Linked DNA regions of Homo sapiens. The protein of the gene in region 1 purifies or fractionates together with the protein of each later gene. This does not show direct contact. Each region holds a gene or a part of one and is shown in the gene's direction. Other genes may lie near its edges.

Region 1 (4,343 bases):
AAAAGTACAAATGACCAGTGTAACAAGACAATGAAATGAATCCATCACCTCATCTCTTTAAAATGCTCACTGTGCTACAAAGGTATATTTTTAAATAAATTAATCTTGTTCTCAGTGATGTTATGTTGCCAAGGGGAAATAAATTACAAGCTTCGTTCCTGGGTTATATTTTCACAGCTTAAGACATTCCTATTTGCCCTGATCATATTAGTACCCAAAGTCCCTTTCAGGCAGTTCTGTAAACTTTTGTGCTTCATTTTTATAGAATGACTACAAGAGAGACAATGTGACTGAATTAGAAAATGATTGCCAAAGAATAGTATTAAGGAGAAGAAAACATTTTTGGTCACCAATCTCTCATATACCACTACTGGATATTTACAACATGCTTCAGTGGAGGAGAAGACACTGCTGCTTTGCAAAGATGACCTGGAATGCCAAAAGGTCTCTGTTCCGCACTCATCTTATTGGAGTACTTTCTCTAGTGTTTCTTTTTGCTATGTTTTTGTTTTTCAATCATCATGACTGGCTGCCAGGCAGAGCTGGATTCAAAGAAAACCCTGTGACATACACTTTCCGAGGATTTCGGTCAACAAAAAGTGAGACAAACCACAGCTCCCTTCGGAACATTTGGAAAGAAACAGTCCCTCAAACCCTGAGGCCTCAAACAGCAACTAACTCTAATAACACAGACCTGTCACCACAAGGAGTTACAGGCCTGGAGAATACACTTAGTGCCAATGGAAGTATTTACAATGAAAAAGGTACTGGACATCCAAATTCTTACCATTTCAAATATATTATTAATGAGCCTGAAAAATGCCAAGAGAAAAGTCCTTTTTTAATACTACTAATAGCTGCAGAGCCTGGACAAATAGAAGCTAGAAGAGCTATTCGGCAAACTTGGGGCAATGAAAGTCTAGCACCTGGTATTCAAATCACAAGAATATTTTTGTTGGGCTTAAGTATTAAGCTAAATGGCTACCTTCAACGTGCAATACTGGAAGAAAGCAGACAATATCATGATATAATTCAACAGGAATACTTAGATACGTACTATAATTTGACCATTAAAACACTAATGGGCATGAACTGGGTTGCAACATACTGTCCACATATTCCATATGTTATGAAAACTGACAGTGACATGTTTGTCAACACTGAATATTTAATCAATAAGTTACTGAAGCCAGATCTGCCTCCCAGACATAACTATTTCACTGGTTACCTAATGCGAGGATATGCACCCAATCGAAACAAAGATAGCAAGTGGTACATGCCACCAGACCTCTACCCAAGTGAGCGTTATCCTGTCTTCTGTTCTGGAACTGGTTATGTTTTTTCTGGAGATCTGGCAGAAAAGATTTTTAAAGTTTCTTTAGGTATCCGCCGTTTGCACTTGGAAGATGTATATGTAGGGATCTGTCTTGCCAAGTTGAGAATTGATCCTGTACCCCCTCCCAATGAGTTTGTGTTCAATCACTGGCGAGTCTCTTATTCGAGCTGTAAATACAGCCACCTAATTACCTCTCATCAGTTCCAGCCTAGTGAACTGATAAAATACTGGAACCATTTACAACAAAATAAGCACAATGCCTGTGCCAACGCAGCAAAAGAAAAGGCAGGCAGGTATCGCCACCGTAAACTACATTAGAAAAGACAATTTTTTTTCAAATGTGCAATTTGTAAATATTGCTAAAAGCATGTATAGTTAGAACTGATTACATCCGTAGGACAAGTTTTAGTTAAAACTCATCACATAAAGAAATTCAAGAAGTATTTTTTTAATTTCTGAAGAAGTTAATTCTTAAAACTATAACATTATATAACAAAAAAGGTTTCCCAAAACAATCTATTTAAAAAACTGTATAAGGAGATTCTGTGTATTAACATGCAATAACAAGCATGCATAAATCAATGGTTCAAGTCTTCTGTTAGGGGCCAATAAAATGTATCTGCATATGTTTTCCACATAAATTTTAATTCAAGAAATGACAGTCAAAAGATCCTTCATTTTAGATTAAGCTTTTCATTTTAATATATAATTTAATGTAAATAAAACATCACTATCAATTTTAAGGAAACTTTTTAATTGTGCAAAGGATAAATTTTTTGACCTATTTTAGGGTTCTAAATGCAATAAGATTTAGTTGAGTTATTCCACAAACACATTATAAAGTTCAGATGTTTCATCAATGCAGTTCTCACGAAAGTATTTACTTTTTAAAAATAACTGAGATATTATTTTAAATTTCTTTTATTAATACTTTCTTTTATTAATATATGGGGGAAAATTATTTTGACATGACGTGGTAAAATGTGAAAAACTAATGTGTCTCAGGCTCAAGTTTTTATAGTTATTAAATGTTTCAAAATAGACAAGTTTTGTTTCCTCATTGATGTTAAGAACCAAACTCCTATTTCAATGAGTTATTGGATTAGACCAATTACTGCACTCTTAAACAGCACCACCATTTAATTTCATGTATATCTAACTTCGAATATATCTGTAAAGATAATCGAAGCAAAAGTAATCACTTAAAGGCACAAATAGGATGTACTGTTGAAAAAGATAAAGAGTGCAGGTGCAGTTTCATTCAACACATTTTTAAGATGCATGTCTGCCAAAATGCAACATACGGGAAGTTTATTTCCTGACAGCAGGTGTACACATGCCAACACTTAATCATTTTATGGCACCTATTTCTTTCTTGGAGTGCCAAGTTTGCAAACCTGCAGTTTTTAATTTGGTAGATGACAAATATTCTGAATCACCAATTAAAAACCTTTTTGGGAGGGATGGGGAAAACTACAAACGTTTGACAAACACAATTCTAGGATGAACAATGTATACAATGCACTTTTATGAAGTTTTTAAAAATAAAGGAAAACAAAAAACTTTACTGAGTGTTATAAGTATTTTCACAATAATTTTGTTTGACTCCATCATGAATTTTAAAATCAAGAAATACCAACCTACTAACTAAAATAGTGTTTTTATTCCATACAAGTATGTAAATCTGTCAATCTTAATTTAGTCAGAATGTTTCTTAATTCTAATAACAATCATTTTTACCTCTTATTCTATTATTAAGGGATAAATCACCAGAAGAGAATTGTAACATTTGTGAAACTTGAAAACACTAAAACTGTTTAAGTGCTTATCTCCATTTCAAATCAGTAGCCTAAGTGTTCTACTCTAAATCAAGTGATTCTGAGAGCTGATCTATGTAACACACCCCAGCTCTTGGATCAAGCCTGTCTTTCACTTAATTTATTCTATATGACTACAGAAATACCAGAATTACTTAATAAAAGTCACACATAAGGGGATAATACCAAATCAGATCAGCATGTTTGACAGAAGACAAAAGGAATCCTTCCCTCAGTGTAGAATAATGCTGATTTATGCTTCAAAAGTTTTAAAAACAGTGTGTGTGTGTGCATACACAGGTGTGTACATAGAAAGAGAACTCAAGTTCTATTTGTCCAAATTATGACTATTTTGCAGGATCTTTAAAAGATAGTAATTTCCATCTGGAAAAAGTTTTTTAAAAAATGACTCATGAAAAACAGATAACAGACACCTAAATTCTTCCTATCTCAAGTTTCAATTTAAAATCTATAAAATTTATAAAATCTATGTAAATTTCTATATTCCTAACATTATCTTGAAAAACGATAGTAATCTGATATCAGACACTGTGAGCTCTCAAAGGCGACTGGATCAAACAGTAAAGTGTCTTTGTACTGTTGAAAATCCTTACTTTAAAATAAATATTCTATTAATTTACTTTTGACTTTTCCGCAACAATACTCAAGTCGTTTTCTTAAGCAAAATAAGCTGATAGTGTATATAAACATCTCACCACTTGTTAACTGTGTCTTCTTCATCCCGACACTATGTGATTTTTATATACATAAAAATATAATTTTAAATGACAGCTTTGCTTTTGGTCAAAGGGTACACAAATAACTAATCTTTATGTTCAAAGTGTTAATAGGTACTTAAGAAGATGAAAACACCAAAACTTTCAATACTTAGAATACTTATTTATTTTGATCAAGTATATAAGTGGTGAAATTCTAATTCAACCAAATAATTGAGATTTCTCCTCACACCTCTTTGTATACAGCATAATCACATATAATCTCAACTGCAATTTTATTAATGTGCTATTTCCAGCAAATTCTACAAAAATAATACCAGTAACAGCAGTAGAAACTATTTACTGATTGTACAAGCAGTATGCTTGGTACTGTGTTAAAGCACTTTACATACATGATCTCATACAACCCTCAGGAACAACACTAAGACAGGAAGGACTCGTGTAAGAGGTTAA
Region 2 (4,325 bases), about 150 Mb from region 1:
TCCAGGAGAAAAGGAAGCCATAGGCATCCTGGCCTCTCTGCTTAACTCCCCAACCCAGTTTCAGTTAGCCTCTTGGCTTTAGACCACCCCTGGGCCACTGTCATCCCACAGAGCTGCTTCTTTACATGGTAGTCATCATCCTGCCTTTCCTCACCTCCCAGGACCTCAGTCTGCTCTCTGCTCCTCCATAAGCTGGGAGAGCAGCTTAAGCCTGCATCTGTGCATTCCTTGGGGCTCCCTACCTCAAGCCTATTTGGAGGAGATAGCATCTCCACTTCTTCAGAGGCTAGCCCATAGCCTTGGTTTTACAGAGCAGAGATAGGGAGAGATTTTTTTTTAAGTTTACAAAGTTTTTGTAACCTTATGAAGCACTTGTGATATCTCTGCTTTGCAGTTTGAGGCTTCCTTTGAGATGATCCCTAGAATTCAGGAAATACTCCTTTTTCATTCATGAGAGAGTTCAGCAAACCACTTCTTCCCCCAGGGGTCCCATGCCCTGGGTCCTCAATGTGTGTTCTGGGGTAATAGGTCTGAACTGCTCCCCTCCTCCCTGCCACCAAGTCCTCCTCAAGTGGGTCACAGTGATGGATAGCAGAAGCGCCTCACTTCTTCCTGTGCCTTCAGGTGGTGGTGGTGCTGCAGCAGGTCTTCCAGCTTATCCAGAAGGTGCTGAGCAAATGGTTGAATGATGCCCAGGTTGTGGAGGTGAGCCCTGACCCTTGCCCTCCGCTCCCATAGTGACTGCTCAGAGGTGTAGCAGGGTAAGATGTTACTGCCACACTTCAGCTTACAATGGTTTGGAGAAAACAAGGGAGGTGAATCCTGCCCCATAGAGATAAGGAATCTTTTGGGAAGACATTTAGAACTCCCCAATATCATGAGAAGTGCTTAACGTAAGGACTCTAATATTAGGGTCGAGTGACAGTCAGGCATCTGTTTTAGCACCAAAGACCTGCCTTTGGTCCCTTTTCAATTCAGGTTTTTGTTGCTGTTGCTGCTCCCTGAGAGGAAATGTTAGAGATGTAAGTCGCAGGAGTTAAGTTCCACAGTTACATCCTGTGCCCCTCAGTGAAGGGCCTTTGCCCCCTGCCTTTCAGGGTGAGGGTCAGACTTGCTTACCTTCCTTGGTTTGCAGGGCCAGGCAAGGCTTATAGGTAAGGGCCCAATCGTAGGCCCCCTCTGTGCAGGGCTTCAGCGCTGTTCCAGCCAGTCATGACCTGCTGACCAGGGCCCCTTTGCTTTCTTCCCAAGGCGGTGTGCGCTATCTTTGAGAAGTCTGTTAAGACGCTGCTGGATGACTTTGCCCCCATGGTGCCACAGCTGTGTGAGATGCTGGGTCGGATGTACAGCACCATCCCCCAGGCCTCTGCTCTTGACCTCACTCGACAGGTGGGCCTTCTGGTTGGGGCAGAGATCCTGACCCTGGGTGGGGGTGGGTCAGATGGCTGCCGTGGCTGGGGTCCCCACTTGCATTCCAGGGATATTGCCATGTCCTGGTGAGACTGGGTCTCAGCTGACCAGCATTCCCTGCTTTCTCGTAGCTGGTCCACATCTTTGCTCATGAGCCTGCCCACTTTCCCCCAATTGAGGCCCTCTTCCTGCTCGTCACCTCCGTCACACTCACTCTCTTCCAGCAAGGTAGGTCCTGACCGGGGTCTCTGCTGCTGCTGCCACTGCCACTGCCTCTGCTTCCCCAAATGGGGAGCCAAAGCTGCCCACTCTGTTCTTCTCTGTCCCCTGAGTCACACGTGGGACTTGATGGGAAACCTGTGAGATCAAGCACAACACCTTATAAATAGTTGAAACTTTAGGTTGAAGTGGATAAGAGGGTGAATGATGTCTTCTGCTGGCCTGCTGGGCTCAGGGCCAGTCTGGATATGGAAGAAGGAAGTGGGGGTGGGAGGTGGGCAGAGGCTCTGAGGGGCTTGGGGCACTAGGCTGGCTCCTTTACTTTGGGATATAATGAAAAGTGGAAAGAGCACGGGCTTTTGAAGTCAGCTAGACCTAGATTCTAAGTTCATCACCACCAACTAGTTGTGTGTCCTTGGGCAAGTCACTTACCTTTGCTGGGCCTTCATTTCCATATCTGTGAAACGGAGATAACATATACTTGAAATGATTGTTTACAGGTATTAAAGTCACATCTTCTGGGCCCTTGGCTCAGGGGCTTTTGCACAGTGAAGTACTCAGAGACTGTTGGTTCCTTTCCCTGCATCAAGGCTTAGTACTTTCTAGGCCAGAAGTCAAGTACCTTTGGCTGTGGTCCTAGCCCTCTACTCACTGTGGCCCTTTGCCTGAGAGAGTTGGCAGCAGGGGCTTCATTCAGGCTTCTCGTGTTGTCTAATCCAGGCTTCCAGTTTGGAGAAACAAAAACAAAAAAACAGCACTGCTCAGCTAGCCTCATGAGCCTTGCCTGGATTCATGGTCACAGGTTTGAGGCTCACCAGGGGTCTCGGTTGGTGCCCAGAGTACTCGCAGCTCATATCCTCAGTGCCTGGTCTCATGATCCTGGCCTCTGTTTCTGTGGGCCATGGAGTAGGTCCAAACTGGGGAGAAAACTGAACCAGAAACCTGGTGTGGTCATCCTCAACTCCACCTCTCCCAACTCCCTGTACCCAATCTGGGACAAGCCCCATTGATCCTGACTCCTGATTCTCTCTCGGTTGGTCCACTTCTACCCACCTCCGTGGCCACTGCCTCAGTTTAGGGTCTCACCTGGATTATCAGCAACCTTCTAGTGGGTTTTCTTGGCATCTCCCCTTCTCTCCAATCTGTTCTGCACACTGCAGCTATAATCTTCATAAAAACACAAATCTGAGCATTTGTCATCCCGGGCTTAAAACCCTTTCATTGTTCCCATTGCCCTCAGCTTATTGTTCCATTCCCACCCACATGACAAGGCTCTGGCATGCCTCTAATGTCCTCTCCTGCCAATGTCCTCATGACTCCAACATTTCAGCCACACTGCCTCTTCCTTACCGTGTCCCATTTGATCCCTGTGCCTTGCTCCTCTGACTGGAATGTCCTATGCCCTTTACTGGGTGAACTCTCACTCCTTCATGCCTTAGAAAGGAGGAAGACTGCATCACTTCTCAGAGTAATTTCTCTCTGAGGCAGAATTGGGTGCTTCTAACTGTACTGAAACTGCATCCCATACACACTGCTGACACAGCACTGATCACACACAATAATCAGCTTTCATGTCTGTCTCTCTTACTAGACTTAAGCCCCTCAAGGGTAGGGTTGAGTTTCTTCTCTCTGCATCCCCAGTGCCCAGAATGAGGCCAGAATACAGCAGGCCACAGACACTGTTAAATAAAGGAGGGGGAGGGCTCCCTGCCCTTGGAACCTTTCCTTCTCATTTTCTGGCCCACCTCTAGCAGGGTGGCTGCTGAATATCAAACCTGCATGGTGCACACTGGGCCTCACTTTCTAGGACTTAAATAACTCAGGGTTCAGATACCAAAGGGACAGACTTTATTGGTGACTCTTCATAGCCTAGAGAAGGAAGCAGGGCAGAGATTATCTGCTTTACAGATGGGGAAACTGAGCATTTGTGGCTTGCGCAAGATCACACAGCTACTTAGTGGTGTCTTAGGCAGATGGTTTTGTACCACATCCTCCTGAGAGTGGAGAAGCCTGGGTAGGAGCTCCAGGTGCATGCCATATTCTTGCCTCAGGAATGATCAGAACTGGAGGCAGCAGTGTCCAACATCATATACGTTGGGCTTGTTGGTTGTCTCGCTGGACAGGATGGCTCCCATACCTGTTATGCCATCCCAATCTTAGCCATTCCTTCCTCGGGCTCTGCCTTCCCACTGGACCATAGGATGACATGTTTCTTGTTTCCCTGTTTCTTGGCATGTCCAGATGATGGGAACTAGTCCTCAGCCCTGAGCTTGGCTCTCTGCAGAGTCCATGTCCATGTGGAGGAGGTTTGCTGGGGTGGGGCTCTTGTTTTTGGCCTTATGATACTGTTTCCTCCTCTGGGCCCTGCCAGTGACTTGCCAGGCCATCTCCAGAGCATGCTGGGCACTGCCCTACCTAAGCAAGAGTCCTGTGGTTTAAGTGGACTGAATAGATTATTTTCCTTTGCCAGACCAAGAGCCCTAAGGCCATTGAAGTGAGGTGGCACTTACTCAGGCTCTGATGCCCTGGCCTTTCTAGGGCCCTCAGATAAACCTCAAAAGGAGATACCAAGGACTGACTCCCCCACCCCCCCACCGCCATCCCAGCTTTCCTCTTCAATGACTGGCTGATGGGAGGTATGTGCTAGGAGCAGTGTAGGGCTACCCCAACCTGCCAGAGGCCACAGTAAGTGTGGT
Region 3 (4,325 bases), on another chromosome or scaffold:
CGGGTTCACGCCATTCTCCTGCCTCAGCCTCCTGAGTAGCTGGGACTACAGGCGCCCGCCACCATGCCCGGCTAATTTTTTGTGTTTTTAACAGAGACGGGGTTTCACCGTGTTAGCCAGGACGGTCTCGATCTCCTGACCTCGTGATCTGCCCGCCTCGGCCTCCCACAGTGCTGGGATGACAGTCATGAGCCACCGCGCCTGGCCTCGACTTTATTATTAATACGGTAAAACTACAGAGAGTTTGAAACATCAGTCTGGGGCGTCCTCCTCTAACCAGTGCACTTGCTGCTGCAGCGCAGGCCCTTCAGGGGACGGGGATGGGGGCCAGTCCCCTCCCTGCCTCCACGGCCCAAGCCCCAGCCTTCCCCACAGTCCTGGAGGATGGCCCGTGGCTGACAGTCTCGGTGGGCGCTGTGTTAAGGTGGCGTCCCCAGCCAGGTCCCGACTCCCCAGCTTAAAGAACAGGGTGGCTGCTGTGGCTTGACTCACGAGTTGCCACTGGCCTTGATGTGTACACGCCCTTGCTCTAGCACTGCCTGGGGCTGGCCTGGCTGGAGGGTAGGGACGCTGCACGCCTTCCCTCTTCCCCCAGGCGCTGGTGACACTGCCCTGCAACCGTCAGCACCATCATCTCCACAACTTGCTCTGTCCCCTTCAAACCCTGACTCCCAGCTGCCCCGCTCCCCCAGCCCCGGCACCCACCATTCTGCTGTCTCTGAACTTGGCTATTCATAGACGTCACATAGGTGACTCATAACTGTGTGCGACCTTTTGTGTCTGACCAACTCCTCTTGGCACAGTGTCCCCAAGGTCCCCCAGGCTGGAGGCTCTCAGTGCTTCCTTTTTATATGGCTGAGGACTGTTCCACTGCAAGGACAGACCACGTTGTTGTTTACCCGTCATCTGTCCATGGACACTGGAGTGGCTTCCACCCTCTGCCTGGGAATAGGCTGCTGTGAACTTGGGTGTAAATATTTGAGTCTCTGCTTCCAATTTCTGAGAGTAGCTTTGCTGGATCTTATTAGAATTCCATGTTTAGCTTTTTGAGGAACCACCAAACTGTTTGCATAGTGGCTGCACCGTTTCCCATTCCAGCCAGCATTGCACGAGGGGTCCAGTTTCTCCACATTTTCACCAACACTGTTTTTTGCTAACAGCCATCCTAGTGGGTGTGAAGCGGTACCTTAGGGTTGTTTTAATTTGCATTTCCCTAATGATCAGTCATGTGGGATCTTTTCAGTTGCTTATGGTGTTTGTCCTTTTTTTTTTTTGAGATGGAGTCTCACTCTGTGGCCCAGACTGGAGTACAGTGGCGCCATCTTGGCTCACTGCAAGCTCTGCCTCCCAGGCTCAGGCGATTCTCCTGCCTCAGCCTCTCAAGTAGCTGGGATTACAGGCGTGAGCCACCACACCTGGCTCATTTTTATTTAGTAGAGACGGGGTTTCACCATGTTGGCCAGGCTGGTCTCAAACTCCTGACCTCATGATCCGCCTGCCTCGGCCTCCCGAAGTGCTGGGATTCCCGGCTTCTCTGCCCATTTTTAACTTGAGTTTATTGTTGGGCTGTAGTTCTGTGTTCTGGATGTGAGTCTCTTACATACGTGGTTTGCCAGTGTTTATTTTCTCCCATTCTGTGGGTTGTCTTTTCACTCCCTTGATGGGTTTGTTTTTTTTTCCATATAGAGTCTAACTCTGTAGCCCAGGCTGGAGTGCAGTAGCACGATCTTGGCTCACGGCAACCTCTCCACCTCCCAGGCTCAAGGAATTCTCCTGCCTCAGCCTCCCGAGTAGCTGGGACTGCAGGCATCCGCCATCACGCCTGGCTAATTTTTTTGTACTTTATTAGAGATCAGGTTTCACCATGTTGGCCAGGATGGTCTCGATCTCCTGACTTCGTGATCCGTCTGCCTCGGCCTCCCAAAGCACTGGGATTACAGGCGTGAGACCCTGCGCCCGGCCTCTATGCCAGTCTTTATGCCAGTATCACACTGTTTTGATCATAACAGCTTTGAAGTAATTTTTGGAATCAGTATGTACGAGTCTCTCAACTCTGTCTTTAAGATTTGTTCGATGATTTGGGGTCCTCTGAGACTCCCTATGAACTTTAGGATGTGTTTTTCTATTTCTGCAAAAACTGTCATTGGGGTTTTGATGGGGTTGCATTGAATCTGCAGATCACTCTGGGTGGTATTGTCATCTTAAAAATATTGAATCCATCAGGCTGGGCGCTGGGGCTCACGCCTGTAATCCCAGTACTTTAGGAGGCTGAGGCAGGTGGATCACCTGAGGTCAGGAGTTTGAGACCATCCTGGCCAACATGGAGAAACCCCGTCTCTACAAAAATACAAAAATTAGCCAGCCGTGATGGCAGGCACCGGTAATCCTAGCTACTGGGGAGACTGAGGCGGGAAAATCGGTTGAACCCAGTGGTGGAGATTGTAGTGAGCCAAGATCGTGCCACTGCAATCCAGCCTGGCGACAATGCTAGACTCCGTCTCAAAAAAAAAAAAGTGGCGTATGGATGTCTCATGTCAGCTTTATGTAGTGGGTGGCACTGTTTGTGCGTGGATAATTGTGGTGTCTTGGCACATTGACCCTTTTATCAATGTATAACATCTTTGTCTCTTAAAATAGTTTCAGCCACTTCAGCTCTCTTTTGCCTGTTTATATGAATACTTTTCCATACCTTCACTTTCAACCTGTTTATGTCTTTAAATCTGAAGTTAGTCTTTCAGGCCGGGCATAGTGGCTCACACCTGTAATCCCAGCACTTGGGAGGCCAAGGTGGACGGATCACTTCAGGTCCACAGTTGCAGACCAGCCTGGCCAACACAGTGAAACCCCGCCTCTGCTGAAGATACAAAAATTAGCTGGGCGTGGTGGCGGGCACGTGGGATCCCAGCTACTCGGGAGGCTGAGGCAGGGGAATCACTTGAACCCAGGAGGCGGAGGTTGCAGTGAGCCGAGATCGCGCCACTGCATTTCACCTTGGGTGACAGAGTGAGACTGTCTCCAAAAGAAAAAAAAGAATCTAATGCCTGATGAGCTGAGGTGGAACAGTTTCATCCCCAAACCACCCATCCCCACCCCCGGCTGGTAGAAAAACTGCCTTCCATGAAACCAGTCCCTGGTGCCAAAAAGATTGGGGACCACTGGTTTAAGTCCTGTAGCTTTACAGACCATAGCTAGAAAGGCAACTGGTATTAATTCACCCTGCACGAGGACCTCCGTCTGCCTCCGCTGAGCTGCTGTCTGCTCACTTCCCCGGGTGGCACACCGGCCTGCATGTAACCAACTCCTGAAGCTTTTATCTGGGAATGTCCTCTTTTTTGGGGGGTGGGGAAGACAGGGTCTTGCTCTGTCACGCAGGCTGGAGTGCAGTGGTACGATCTCAGCTCACTGCACTCTCCACCTCCTGGGTTCAAGAGATTCTCCTGCCTCAGCCTCCTGAGTAGCTGGGATTACAGGTGCGCGCCACTACACTCAGCTCATTTTTTCTGTGTGCTTTTTGTGTAGACACGGGGTTCTCACAGTGTTGCCCAGGCTGGTGTCATACTCCTGGCCTCAAGCAATCTTCCCGCCTTGGCCTCCCAAAGTGCTGGGATTACAGGCATGAGCCACGATAGCAAGCCTTAACTCTAATTTTTGAAGGGCTATTTTTAGAATTCTCGGTTTTGTCAGTTTCTTCCATTGAATGGTACCTGTTTTCCTGTTTCTTTGAACGTCTTGTGCTTTTTGTTGAAAACTGGTCCTTGGCCGGGCGCGGTGGCTCAAACCTGTAATCCCAGCACTTTGGGAGGCCGAGGTGGGTGGATCACGAGGTCAGGAGATCGAGACCATCCTGGCTAACGCGGTGAAACCCCGTCTCTACTAAAAATACAAAAAATTAGCCGGGCATGGTGGCGGGCGCCTGTAGTCCCAGCTACTTGGGAGGCTGAGGCAGGAGAATGGCGTGAACATGGGAGGCGGAGCTTGAAGTGAGCCAAGATCATGCCACTGCACTCCAGCCTGGGTGACAGAGTGAGACTCCATCTCAAAAAAAAAGAAAACTGGTCCTTTGAAAACAGACTCTGCCAGTCTTTGCAGACAGGTTCTGTGCTTGGACCCTGGGGATCAGTGTGAGGTCTCTTCCAGGACCCGTGCATCTCTTCCGACTCTCGGGCAAGTGCTTCAGCCTGGTGGAGTCCACGTGAGTGCAGGGTGGGTGCGAGGGTGGGCTGGGGCGCAGCCTGCGGACCCCCCTCATGCCATCTGTGTCCCCAGGTACAAGTATGAGTTCTGCCCGTTCCACAACGTGACCCAGCACGAGCAGACCTTCCGCT
Region 4 (4,325 bases), on another chromosome or scaffold:
ACTCTGAGTTGTGCCTGCAGCACGCTGGGGCGTGGGCTCCCCAAGCCCTGTGGACGTCGGGGTGGGGCCGTCCTGGGCACTGCGGGGTGCCGAGCAGCATCCCTGGCCTCACCCACTCCATGCCAGGAGCTCCCCCAATTGTGACAACCACAGATGTCCCAAGCATCCCCTGGGCAGGAGCCCCCAGGTGAGAGCTGCTGGCACCCCAGTTCATAGGTTGTGCCTCGGGCACGGCAGCCTCGCCCTGCCGTGGGGCGCTCTGCCCAGCCACGGAGGTCCACTGTGTCCCCAGCAGCTGCGGCTGGCCCCGCCAGGCCTGGGAGGGTTGCACAGGGCGCCCCGCCAGGTGAGAGAAGCTATTTTCAGGTGGTGAGATCAGGGGAGTGCTGGGGACGCAGCGGAAGGTGAGGCAGGAAGCAGCAGGTTGGGCTGTGGAGGGCTGTGCCCTCTTTCGTAGACAGTGGGTCCAGCTGGTGGCCCTGGGGTGGCGGCAACACCCATGCTGCTGCTTGCAGGGCGGGAGCCGTTGGCTGGCAGAGGGCCCTGGTGTGCTCCACTTGGTGGGTCTGAGTCCAGCCTCGTCTCCTCCCAGGTTTGGGGGGTCCTGTGTGCATCTGAGAGGGCCCCGGCCTGCTGGCTTCGTCCGGCTCACCCCTGAGGAGGTGCGGGGCAGTCACAGGCCTTGCCGAAGCCCCAGGGCCTGTCAGAGCCGGGCTGCAGGTGGCAGAGCCCCTCCGGGGTTGGAGTGGGGCGTCCCCCGGATCCTCAGTCACTTGGACTATGTGAGGGGCTGGCCCGGTGCAGTCAGCGTGGGAGGGACCCAGGGTCCTCAGAGCCCAATTCGGCTTCTGGGGTTTCCTTCCTTTCCCCGTCCTGGGCGTCCCAGCGCGCCCCATCACGCCCCATCACGTAGGCCCTTGGGTGTCGGCTGCAGCTGGCCCTGGGGCGCCCCACTGACTGCCGGCCGCCCCCTAGGCCCTGTTTGTGCTCTTCGTCCTGGCCTACATCCACATCGTCTTCTCCCGCTCGCCCATCAACTGCCTGGAGCATGTGCGTGACAAGTGGCCGCGTGAGGGCATCCTGCGTGTGGAAGTGCGGCACAACTCGAGCCGCGCGCCCGTCTTCCTACAGTTCTGTGACAGCGGCGGCCGCGGGAGCTTCCCGGGCCTGGCCGTGGAACCAGGCAGCAACCTGGACATGGAAGATGAGGAGGAGGAAGAGCTGACCATGGAGATGTTTGGGAACAGCTCCATCAAGGTGAGCCAGGCCTGGGCTCAGCTGCAGCAGAGGCCAGCGCCCCGTAGATGCTGGTCGCTGAAGGGGCGGTTCCTGACATCGACAGGATGTTGGGGTTCTTGACTTTCAGGGACCTGGCATGCAGACAAGGCCGCCCCTGCCTGCCGTGGCCTTTTGGTGGCCTGGGGGCTCTGAAGCAAGACCCTCGGCCTGTCGCCCTGCTAGAGGCCTGGGCAGGGCAGGGGGATCTCGGGGAGGACTTGGGCTGGGCAGACTCGGGCCTTTGAGAGTAGCTGTTCCGGGGAGGGGATTGGCTGGGGCTGGGGATGCAGTGGGCAGCAATAGCTGAGGAGGCCTGGGGGCTGAAAGCTAAGAGCTCTGGGCCCATCCTGGCCGTCCTGAGGTGGCCCCACTGCCTGCAGAGGTGCTGGGTTCCCGGTCAGCTTGTGGTGGCCTTGGGCACTGGTGGGACCAGGTGGCTGTGTTGGGCCCCACAGCCTGGTGGGAGATGTTTTTGCTTCAGCAGTCAGGGTTTGGGGTCCCACCTGTTCCCACAGAGCCAACCCCAAGAGTTTGAGTGTTTGGGCAGAGCATCATGGACCCTTCCATGGGGTCTACTGCCTGTAGCTGGCCCTTGCCTCAGCTTCAGGATTCAGAGCTGTGCTGGAGATGGCCTCACAGCAGGGCAGGCTTGGTGTTGAGGTGGGGTCCCAGCTGAGGCGGGAGGCACACGTAGTCCACCCTGGCCTGGTCAGTGGTGGGGCAGAGGCTGAGGCTTCCAGTCCCTTCCCATTAGCAGGACTGTATCCTCAGGCTGGGCCCTCACAGCCCGGGCTGGCGCTGCTGACACCCAGGTCCCTGGTCGCCCACAGTTTGAGCTGGACATCGAGCCCAAGGTGTTCAAGCCGCCGAGTAGCACAGAGGCCCTGAATGACAGCCAGGAGTTCCCCTTCCCCGAGACGCCCACCAAAGGTAGGCCACCCACCAAAGGTGTACTGCCTCACGGGGTTGCCTCAGTCATGGGGTGCTGGGGTGCAGGCGGGGTCCCTCCGAACATCCCCAGCCTGCTGGCTGCATGTCCTGGACCGTTGAGGGCACCCCCGTGCCTCGATTTCCCCATCTGTCAGCACAGGAGGCTGTGGGGACACCCCAGAGCCTGGGGTAACTGGCTCAGCTCATCCTTTCTGGGATCCTCGTGAACGGCGACTTGGAGGGGATGGATCCCTTCGGCTCTGAGCTCAGAGTTCTAGCGGGCTGTGCTCAGGGAAGCCCCCGCCCCCGCCCCCACCCCTGCCCATCTGGCAGCAGAGGGTCTATCCAGAGGGCCGGGGCCTCTGAAGTGTTGGGGGTGTGCTGGGGGCCGCCAGGGCAGTGGGGCAGCCCTGCACCCAGCCAGCCCCAGCCAGGGAGAGGGGGCCACGGGAGGAGGAGCCTGGCCAGCCTCTGCAGTGCACAGGGCAGGACACCAGCTTGAGTGGGCACCATCCCAAGTGTCCATGTAGGGGTCCTCCCAGCACCCACCTGGGGCCCAGGGCTCAGCAGGTCTCACCCTCCACCCCTCAACGCCTGCCTTGCCTGCTGGCAGTGGGCGGGGGACGTGTGTGGGGGCGCTGACCTGGTCCCTGGTTCTGCCCTGCAGTGTGGCCGCAGGACGAGTACATCGTGGAGTACTCACTAGAGTATGGCTTCCTTCGCCTGTCGCAGGCCACCCGCCAGCGCCTGAGCATCCCCGTCATGGTGGTCACCCTGGGTGAGTCTGAGCTGCTGGGCTTGGGGAGCTCCATGGCGGGGCCTCCCCTCCTCCCTCGGGTCTCCTCCTGCTGGTGCGGGACGGGGGGCTGTGCAGGAAGCACTGGGGTCTGCCCCGCCCCAGGCACGCTTCCCAGGGCTGGGGTCCTGGATGGGTTTCCTAAGAATGGGCAGGGCCAGGAAGCAGGCCAGGCCTCAGCAATGGAGCCAGCTGGGGCAGGGCCCAGGGGGTGGCCTGGGCGGGGCTCCCGGCTCCCTGATTCACCCACCCGCAGACCCCACGCGGGACCAGTGCTTCGGGGACCGCTTCAGCCGCCTGCTGCTGGATGAGTTCCTGGGCTACGATGACATCCTCATGTCCAGCGTGAAGGGCCTGGCCGAGAACGAGGAGAACAAGGGTGAGGCATGCCCCGGGGCCGAGGGTGCGAGGGCGCGGGTGGGGGCGGGCGCTCACGGCTCCTTCTGCTGCAGGCTTCCTGCGGAATGTGGTGTCGGGCGAGCACTACCGCTTTGTGAGCATGTGGATGGCGCGGACGTCCTACCTGGCCGCCTTCGCCATCATGGTCATCTTCGTGAGTGCCTCGGGGCGGGTGCGGGGGCTGGCCGGGCGGGAGCCAAGCAGGCCCTCGCAGCCCCTCATAGCGCTTCCTGCGCGCCCCTTGCAGACGCTGAGCGTGTCCATGCTGCTGCGGTACTCACACCACCAGATCTTCGTCTTCATCGGTGAGTGTCCCGCCGGCGCAGGGCGGGGCGGGCGTCCTCCAGGCCCTCACCGGGCGCCCGCCGCCCTGTGCCCGCAGTGGACCTGCTGCAGATGCTGGAGATGAACATGGCCATCGCCTTCCCCGCAGCGCCCCTGCTGACCGTCATCCTGGCCCTCGTCGGTGAGGACCCCACCCGGCCTCCCCCGCCCCGCGCTGCACCCCGCCCCGCCCGCTTCAACCGGCGCCGCCTCTCCCTGCAGGGATGGAGGCCATCATGTCGGAGTTCTTCAACGACACCACCACCGCCTTCTACATCATCCTCATCGTGTGGCTCGCGGACCAGTATGACGCCATCTGCTGCCACACCAGCACCAGCAAGCGGCATTGGCTGCGGTGAGCGTGGCGCGGGGGCAGGGTGGAGTGGGTGCTGGTGGGCAGGGGTAGGGGGCTGCCAGAGGGAGGGGCGCTGGAGGCGGGGGTGGTGGCTGCGCCACGCGGGAACCCCAGGGGCTGGGCCTGGCAGGGTGGGACCTGCAGCCCCGACGCCCTCACCCCGCCCCGCAGGTTCTTCTATCTCTACCACTTCGCCTTCTATGCCTATCACTACCGCTTCAATGGGCAGTATAGCAGCCTGGC

Evidence for each region. The genes of interacting proteins can lie anywhere in the genome.
Region 2: the proteins of B3GALT2 (region 1) and IPO13 purify together in Homo sapiens (affinity purification with mass spectrometry; 3 studies listed by BioGRID and IntAct, with this or other methods). This does not show direct contact.
Region 3: the proteins of B3GALT2 (region 1) and GNPTG purify together in Homo sapiens (affinity purification with mass spectrometry, with the first as the bait; one large-scale study listed by BioGRID). This does not show direct contact.
Region 4: the proteins of B3GALT2 (region 1) and TMEM259 purify together in Homo sapiens (affinity purification with mass spectrometry; 3 studies listed by BioGRID and IntAct, with this or other methods). This does not show direct contact.

What each region holds. Positions count from the first base shown.
Region 1 is NC_000001.11:193,177,605-193,181,947, reverse strand, and holds the end of B3GALT2 (beta-1,3-galactosyltransferase 2), read left to right. Parts: intron 1-265; 5' UTR 266-385; coding exon 386-1,654; 3' UTR 1,655-3,218; downstream 3,219-4,343. UniProt on the Homo sapiens protein: Beta-1,3-galactosyltransferase that transfers galactose from UDP-galactose to substrates with a terminal beta-N-acetylglucosamine (beta-GlcNAc) residue. Can also utilize substrates with a terminal galactose residue, albeit with lower efficiency.
Region 2 is NC_000001.11:43,959,625-43,963,949, forward strand, and holds part of IPO13 (importin-13), read left to right. Parts: intron 1-624; coding exon 625-705; intron 706-1,251; coding exon 1,252-1,389; intron 1,390-1,541; coding exon 1,542-1,638; intron 1,639-4,325. UniProt on the Homo sapiens protein: Functions in nuclear protein import as nuclear transport receptor. Serves as receptor for nuclear localization signals (NLS) in cargo substrates.
Region 3 is NC_000016.10:1,357,606-1,361,930, forward strand, and holds part of GNPTG (N-acetylglucosamine-1-phosphotransferase subunit gamma precursor), read left to right. Parts: intron 1-4,137; coding exon 4,138-4,192; intron 4,193-4,266; coding exon 4,267-4,325. UniProt on the Homo sapiens protein: Non-catalytic subunit of the N-acetylglucosamine-1-phosphotransferase complex, an enzyme that catalyzes the formation of mannose 6-phosphate (M6P) markers on high mannose type oligosaccharides in the Golgi apparatus.
Region 4 is NC_000019.10:1,011,124-1,015,448, reverse strand, and holds part of TMEM259 (membralin), read left to right. Parts: intron 1-975; coding exon 976-1,257; intron 1,258-2,090; coding exon of another isoform or gene 2,091-2,108; coding exon 2,109-2,208; intron 2,209-2,875; coding exon 2,876-2,986; intron 2,987-3,260; coding exon 3,261-3,383; intron 3,384-3,456; coding exon 3,457-3,557; intron 3,558-3,650; coding exon 3,651-3,708; intron 3,709-3,785; coding exon 3,786-3,869; intron 3,870-3,949; coding exon 3,950-4,082; intron 4,083-4,253; coding exon 4,254-4,325. UniProt on the Homo sapiens protein: May have a role in the ERAD pathway required for clearance of misfolded proteins in the endoplasmic reticulum (ER). Promotes survival of motor neurons, probably by protecting against ER stress.